Linked DNA regions of Homo sapiens. The protein of the gene in region 1 purifies or fractionates together with the protein of each later gene. This does not show direct contact. Each region holds a gene or a part of one and is shown on either strand. Other genes may lie near its edges. The genes, in order: AVL9 and MTMR12.

Region 1 (3,812 bases):
AGTTTTAGCATCTGTTGGTAATTTGTACCTAAATCACGGTGGATGCTAAATGGTGATTTGTCTGTTAGTACTTCTATGTTTATTAGCTGTTACTCTTTTTTTTTTTTTTTTTTTTGAGACAGAGTCTTGCTCTGTCGCCCAGGCTGGAGTGCAGTGGCGTAATCTCAGCTCACTGTAACCTCCACCTCCCGGGTTCAAGCAATTCTCCTGCCTCAGCCTCCTGAGTAGCTGGGATTACAGGTGTGTGCCACCATGCCTGGCTAATTTTTGTACTTTTAGTAGAGACGGGGTTTCAGCATGTTGGTCAGGCTGGTCTCGATCTCCTGACCTCATTATCTGCCCGCCTTGGCCTCCCAAAGTGCTGGGATTACAGGTGTGAGCCAGCCACCAAGCCCAGCAGCTGTTATTCTTCTTTTTATGAGACAGAGTCTCGCTCTCTAGCCAGGCTGGAGTGCAGTGGTGTGATCTTGGCTCACTGCAACTCTGCCTCCTGGGTTCAAGTGATTCTCCTGCCTCAGCCTCCTGAGTAGCTGGGACCACAGGCGTGTGCCACCATGCCCGGCTAAGTTTTTGTATTTTAGTAGAGACGGGGTTTCACCATGTTGGCCAGGATGGTCTCGATCTCCTGACCTCGTGATCCACCCACCCCGGCCTCCCAAAGTGCTGGGATTACAGGCATGAGCCACTGCGCCCGGCCAGCTGTTATTCTTATATAAGGAATTTTTCCCTCTTTTTTATTTGTTATCATTATGGACGGCTTCATGGGTCTTCTAATTTGATTTTGATTGACTCCATTCCAGGTTCTTTTTTATATTTCTCCAGTGAATAAATTGGTGGGTGCACTGATGACTGTGTTATCCCTTTTTCCAGGTAAGAAAACAGCAGTATCTACTCTTTCTTTTGTTTAACTTGTACTGGAACCTAAACTTTTAGAAATAAAGTTTCAAAGATAAATTCGTTAGGGTTATCCTTTCTATTTTAATATGACGTCTTCCTTTTGGAAATAGGTTTCTCTCTTTTGTCTGGGCTTCTTTCTGTTCTTTTTGTTTTTAATTAAAATGTGTACAAGCATAGCTTATTAAATTTTATAGGGGAGTCTACTAATATATAGCTCTCAGGTTCTTCCATATTATTATAAGCCAAGCTGTTCTTTGATATTGCATATTTTAGGCATGATTGAACATGGTCTCAGTGACTGTTCTCAGTATAGACCCCGGAAAAGTATGTCTGAAGATGGTGGGCTTCAGGAAAGTAACCCATGTGCAGATGATTTTGTTTCTGCATCCACTGCTGATGTTTCACATACCAACTTGGGAACTATCAGGAAAGTCATGGCAGGAAACCATGGAGAAGATGCTGCCATGAAGACTGAGGAGCCTTTGTTCCAAGTGGAAGACAGCAGCAAAGGGCAGGAACCCAATGATACCAATCAATATTTGAAACCTCCATCTCGCCCATCTCCAGATTCTTCAGAAAGTGACTGGGAAACTTTGGATCCTAGTGTCTTAGAGGACCCCAACTTGAAAGAAAGGGAACAGCTGGGATCAGACCAGACAAATTTGTTTCCAAAGGACTCTGTCCCCTCAGAGAGTCTTCCAATTACTGTACAACCTCAAGCTAATACGGGACAGGTAGTCCTGATACCAGGGCTCATTTCGGGTTTGGAAGAGGATCAGTATGGCATGCCCCTGGCCATCTTCACAAAGGTAAAGTGTAATATTTTTTATCGAATTCCTTAAAGAATTTGAAAAATCCTTTCGGAGTTTAACTTTTGAACTTTTGGTATTCAACACATTTTCAGGTGGAAAAATTTCCTTGAAAACTGTAAAGTACAACCAAATACATAGTACTGTGGCATCCGTGACCATAGTATAAGTCTATGGGGAAGTATATAGGGGATTTTGATTGGTAAATGTTTTGAAACTTAGTAGATATGAGTCATATGCACAATCACTCTCTTGGGTCTATTTTTAATTATTCAGGTTTCTCCTTAAAAACAGAATTAAGGAAGTCCAGACAGCCTTGATTGCACTCAATAAATACAGGCACACCTCAGAGATACTATGGTTCAGTTACAGAACACTGTGATAAAGCGAGTCTCAGGAATTTTTTTGTTTCCAAGTGCATATAAAAGTTATGTTTACACTATACTGTAGTCTATTAAGTGCGCTGTAGCATTATGTCTTTTTTTTAATGTACATATCTTAATTTAAAAATACTTTAGGCCGGGCACAGTAGCTCATGCCTATAATCCCAAAACTTTGGGAGGCTGAGGCAGGAGGATCACTTGAGGCCAGGAGTTTGATTAGCCAGATGTGGTAACTCGCGCCTGTGGTCCCAGCTGCTTGGGAGGCTGAGATTAGGAGGCTTGGTTGAGCCCTGGAGGTTGAGGCTAAAGTGAGCTGTGATCACACCACTGTACTCCAGACTGGGTGACAGAGGGAGACTCTATTATTTTTTAAATAATAAATGTTTATTATTTAAAATTTAATAATTATTTTAAAAAAACAACAAAGTGAATAAAACTTAAATAATAATGTTAAAAGCACAATAAAGTGAAGTACAATTAATTATTAAATAATTTTTAATTTATTTAAATATAAATGAATAAAAATCCTTTGTTGTCATTTCAACAACATTCACCACATCTTCTTCACTAGGAGCAGACTCCATCACAAGAAACCACTCTCCTTATTCATCCCTAAGAAGCAGCTCCTCATCCGTTCAAGTTTTTATCAGTAGTTTGCAGCAATTCAGTCACATTTTCAGATTCCACTTCTAATTCTAATTTTCTTGCTGTTTCCACCAAATCTCCCCCAAGGTCTTGAACCCCCCAAAGTTATTCATGACAGGGGTATCAACTTCCTCCAAACTCCTGTTAATATTGATATTTTGACCTCCTCCTGTGAATCACAGATGTTCTTAATGGCATCTAGAGTAATGAATCTTTTCCAGAAGACTTTCAATTTACTTTGCCCAGATCCATCAAAGGAATCACTATCCATGGCAGCTATAGCCTTATGAAATGTGTTTCTTAAATAATAAGATTTGAAAGTCAAAATGACTCCTTGATCCATGGGCTCCAAAATGAACGTTGTGTTCCTAAGCATGAAAAACATTAATCTCCTTGTACATCTTCATTAGAGCCCTTAGATGACCAGGTGCATTGTCAATGAGCAGTAATATTGTGAAAGGAATCTTTTTTTATTTTCTTCTGAGTAGTAGGTCTCAACAGTGGCCTTAAATATACAGTAAACCATGCTGTAAAGAGATGTGCTGTCATCCAGGCTTTGTTTTTCCATTCTAGAGCACAGGCAGCAGATTTAGCATAACTCTGAAGGGCCCTAGGATTTGGGGAATGGTAAATCATCACTGGCTTCAACTTAAAGTCACCAGCTGCATTAGCCCCCAGTAAGAGTCAGCTTGTCCTTTGAAGCTTTAAAGCCAGGCATTGACTTCTTCCCTACCTACAAAAGTCCTAGATGGCATCTTCTTCCAATAGAAAGCTGTTTTGTCTTTATTGAAAATCTGTTGTATTCAAAATCTGTAATCACCTTCATCAATGACCTTAGCTAGATCTTCTGAATAACTTGCTACAGCTTCTTCATCAGCACTTGCTGCTTCACCTTGCACTTTTATGTTATAGAGACGGCTTCTTAAACATTGTGAGCTAACTCTGCTGGCTTCATACTTCTGCATCTTCTCAGCTCTCTCAGCTTTCATATAATCGAAGAGAGTTAAGGCCTTGCTCTAGATTAGGCTTTGGCTTAAGGGAATGTTCTGTTTGGTTTGATCTTCTATCCAGACCACTC
Region 2 (4,608 bases), on another chromosome or scaffold:
TGAAATGAATTTTCTTTGCAATCTTGACTAAAAAATGAGGGTTTTATCAATAACTTCGTAGAGTAAATAGAAGTCTCTTAAGGGCTCTTGATATTCTTCCTGTTGGAAACACAAAGAAGGGAAAGGTTTGGAAAAATGAAGTTGACAAAGTCTTTTATTATCAAACGCTCAAACTTATTCCTCACTGCCTTGTTAACACTTGATTTGACACTTTTTTTTTTCTGTTTGAGACACAGTCTTGCTCTGCCACCCAGGCTGGAGTGCAGTGGCGCGATCCTGGCTCACTGCAACCTTGGTTCAAGCGATTCTCGTGCCTCAGCCTCCCGAGTAGCTGGGATTACAGGCGCCCGCCACCACACCAGGCTAATTTTTGTATTTTTAGTAGAGATAGGGTTTCTCCATGTTGGCCAGGCTGGTCTCAAACTCCTGACTTCAGATGATCCACCCGCCTCGGCCTCCCAAAGTGCTGGGATTAGAGGCGTGAGTCATCGTTTGTCTCATTTTTGTTTACATTTAAAATAATAAACCTTGAGGTCGGGCGCGGTGGCTCACGCCTGTAATCCCAGCACTTCGGGAGGCCGAAGCGGGTGGATCATCTGAAGTCAGGAGTTTGAGACCAGCCTGGCCAACATGGTGAAACCCCCGTCTCCATTAAAAATACAAAAATTAGCGGCATGGCGCGGTGGCTCATGCCTCTAATCCCAACACTTTGGGAGGCTGAGGCGGGCGGATCACGAGGTTAGGGGTTTGAGACTAGCCTGGCCAACATGGTGAAACCCCGTCTCTACTAAAAATACAAAAATTAGCCGGGTGTGATGGCAGGCGCCTATAATCCCAGCTACTCGGGAGGCTGAGGCAGGAGAATCGCTTGAACCTGGGAGGCAGAGGTTGCAGTGAGCCTATACTACGCCATTGCACTCAAGCCTGGGCGACAGAACGACACACACACACACACACACACACACACACAAAATTAGCTGGATATAGTGGCGGGCGCCTGTAATCCCAGCTACTCAGGAGGCTGAGGCAAGAGAATCGCTTGAACCTGGGAGACGGAGGTTGCAATGAGCAGAGATCGCGCCATTGCACTCCAGCCTGGGCGACAAGAGCAAAACTCCGTCTCAAAAGTAAATAATAATAAAATAAAAAACCTTGAACGTCATCGCTGTAAGTTGGGAACTCCTATAGCAAGATTCCATACATCCCATTTTTGGACGTTTTATTCCAAAGACACAAGCAAACGGAAGAAAACGACTGCCGTGAACCCCTGCTAACGACAACTTGGTGACTGCAGGATCATTGGACGACGGTTTTATCCTCGCCATCCAATCGTTGGAAAGTCCGGAGAGAACGCTCTCTGGATTGGTTGGAGGAAACATCTCTCCAAGTGCACTCAAGAATGGGTTGGGAGCGGGGTTCGGCCGGCAGCGCCTCGGGCCAATCAGAGAAAGCATGAGGGCGGGCTCTGCCGCAGGAAGGTGGTGAATCTCGGCGGGTCAAACTCTCCTGACGTGATGGGGGGGCGTGGCCTCCAGTTGCGGTCTCCCGGCTCTCTGGGCCCGCGCACGGGATGGGCGGGGCCCACGGGCCTGGGCGGGGCGAGCGGTGTCAGCGGCGGAGCCGGATGCGGGCGGCATCGCGGCGGTCGCGGCCTTGGGGATGGGCGGAGCCCCAGCCGCTAGTGCTGGTGGCCGCCGCTGCTGCCCCAGCTGGAGCCCGAGCCGCCGCCTCTGCGTCCGCGCGTCGCTGCTTCCCAGGGCGGCGGTATGCTGGGGAAAGGAGTAGTCGGCGGTGGCGGCGGCACCAAGGCCCCCAAGCCCTCCTTCGTGTCGTACGTACGCCCTGAGGTGAGGGGGCGCCGCGCAGGCGGGGCGTCGGGCAGGGGCGGCCGGGGCGAGGGGCGCCGGGAGCCCCTTCCTTGCAGCGGGGAGCGCCGCGGAGCGCTTCCTGCCCTTGTGCCGGGCGACGGGGCAGCCAGGCGGGCTGAGGCCGCAGGAGCGCGCTGGGGCCTCCGCGCGGGCCGGAATGGGGACCCCGGCGCAGGCAGGCAGGTGCCTGAGCGCAGGGCCCGAGCGCTGGAGGCTGGTGGAGGGGCCCGAGCCGAGAAGGGATTGCGGCCCGGAACGCCCCTGGGGATTCTGGAGAGGACCTGGGGTTGTGGGCACTGCTGGGAGGGGTAGGGCCGTGGGTCGGAGCCCCCAACGGGGCCTGCTCGGAGCCCGCGTGGGTCCGTCCTGCCTCTGGACTTTCTCAGTGAGCCCAGAAGCCCGCCGGCCTCCGCTGCCTGCGTCTGAGTGCCTCGGGTGCGGCTGGCGGGATGCCCTGCACCTACGTCCGCCTCCCGTCAGCGCTGCGGGGAGAAAAGGGGGTCGGCCTGGCCTCAGCCAGTCTCTGCTTGTCTCTCCCTTGGGAATTCTCCGCTGTCGCTTCTTTCTCCTCATCCCCTCACCATCATCCTTTCCACCCACTTCTTACTCTTCTGAATCTTCAGGTCAAGAAATTTGTTCATTCATTCAGAAAATACTTCTCGAGCTCCTACTGTGTGTCAGGCACTAAGTGCTTGTGATAGACATCAGTGAACAGGACAGAGATCTCTGCATTCCTGGAGCTTATTTGAGGGGGAAAGGAGAAACGGGGTGAATTATAGATAATTAAGTAAATTATACGGTGTAGTAGGAGGTGATAAATATCATGGGAAAGAAAAGAAATCTTTTTCCTCCTCGCAAAGGTGGCATTTGAGCCGAGACTTGAAGATACGAGAGGTCTGAGAGAAGAGTCGTCCAGGTAGAGGGAACAGCCCCCGGGAAGGTCGTGAGGTGGGAGTGTGTCTGAAGGGTTGGCGGAGCGTCAAGGAAGCCAGCATGGCAGAGGCCCATGGACAAGGGGGACAGTCATAGGAGAGGAGGTTAGAGAGATCAGAACTTGTAGGCCTTGCTCAGGGCTTCTTGAGCAATAGTTCTTAATCCAAATGCCTAATGAGAAGCCTTCTTGTTTTGCATCTGTAAAGGTTTTTTTCTGCCCTTCTCTCCAGCAGAAGTGCAGAAGCACCGCCAAATTTGTTGCAGATGTCTTCCCACCTCTGTAATGCAGAAGCACGTGGGCTGTGGATGAGAGATCTGATCAGGGACTGCTTCCGTAAAGACCACCTGGGGCCTGAGGCATTTGCATATGTATCTTTAAATTCAAGATATGTGTGTTTTCTCCAGGGGAAAGTGCTCTTAAAATGGGTCTTATTTTTAGTCCTAGTTGTAAAATACAAACCATTTCCTCTGTTAGCACTTGATGTGGAGTCAGGGTCATCTTAAAGTTTCAGCGGGCTTCCCTTGTGGTATCACATTTAAGCAATGTGGTCAATTTCTCTTTGTGTCTTTTTAAAACATTTAAACATTTAAAAAATTTTTGTGGGTATAGTAGGTGTATATATTTAATGGGATACATGAAATATTTGGGCTGGGCATGGTGGCTGACACCTGTAATCCCAGCACTTTGGGCCGGCTGAGGTGGGTGGATCACCTGAGGTCAGAAGTTGGAGACCAGCCTGGCCAACATGGTGAAACCCTAAAATTAGCCAGGCATGGTGGTGCGCACCTGTAATCCCAGCTACTTGGGAGGCTGAGGCAGGAGAATCGCTTGAACCCAGGAGGCAGAGGTTGCAGTGAGCCGAGATCGCGCCACTGCACTACAGCTTGGGCGACAGAGCGAGACTCCATCTCAAAAAAAAAAAAAAGAAAGAAATCTTTGGATACAGGCATACAATGCATGAATGGGGTATCCATCACTGCAAGCATTTATCCTTCCTTTGTGTTACACACTATCCAATTATACTCTTTAAGTTATTATAAAATATACAATTATTGTTGACTGTAGTCACCCTGTTGTGCTATCACTTACTAGATCTTATTCTAACTGTGTTTTTGTACCCATTAAACATCCCCACTTCCCTTTCCCCTGCTACCCTTCCCAGCTTTTGGTAACCATCATTCTGTCTCCATGAGTTCAAATGTTTTAATTTTTAGCTCCCACAAATAAGTGAGGACGTGCAAAGTTTGTCTTTCTGCGCCTGGCGTAGTTCACTTAACATAATGACCTCCAGTTCTGTTCATTGTTACAAATGACAGGATCTTATTCTTTTTTATGGCTGAATAGTACTCGTGTGTATGTACCACATTTTCTTTATCTATTCATTTGTTGATGATGGACACTTTGGTTGCTTCCAAATCTTGGCTGTGGTGAATAGTGTTGTAATAAACATGGGAGTGCAGATTTCTCTTCCATGTACTGATTTCCTTTCTTCCTTTTTTAGAGACAGGATCTTGCTTTGTCGCTTAGGTTGAAGTACAGTGGCGTGATCACAGCTCACTGTAGCCTCCACCTCCTGTACTCAAGCCATTTTCCCAAGTAGCTGGGACTACAGGTGCATGCCAGAGCACCTGGCTAATTTTAAAATTTTTAGTAGAGGTGATGTCTTGCTGTCTTTGCCCAGGCTGCTCTCAAACTCCTGGGCTCAAGCAATCCTCCTGCCTCAGCCTCCCAAAGTGCTGGGATTGTAGGCGTAAGCCACCGTGCCTGGCCCTGATTTCCTTTCTTTTGGGTGTATACCTAGCAGTG

What was found.
Region 2: the proteins of AVL9 (region 1) and MTMR12 fractionate together in Homo sapiens (co-fractionation; one large-scale study listed by BioGRID). This does not show direct contact.

What each region holds. Positions count from the first base shown.
Region 1 is NC_000007.14:32,557,759-32,561,570, forward strand, and holds part of AVL9 (late secretory pathway protein AVL9 homolog), read left to right. Parts: intron 1-800; coding exon 801-870; intron 871-1,170; coding exon 1,171-1,706; intron 1,707-3,812. UniProt on the Homo sapiens protein: Functions in cell migration.
Region 2 is NC_000005.10:32,309,997-32,314,604, reverse strand, and holds the start of MTMR12 (myotubularin-related protein 12), read left to right. Parts: upstream 1-1,665; 5' UTR 1,666-1,766; coding exon 1,767-1,847; intron 1,848-4,608. UniProt on the Homo sapiens protein: Acts as an adapter for the myotubularin-related phosphatases. Regulates phosphatase MTM1 protein stability and possibly its intracellular location. By stabilizing MTM1 protein levels, required for skeletal muscle maintenance but not for myogenesis.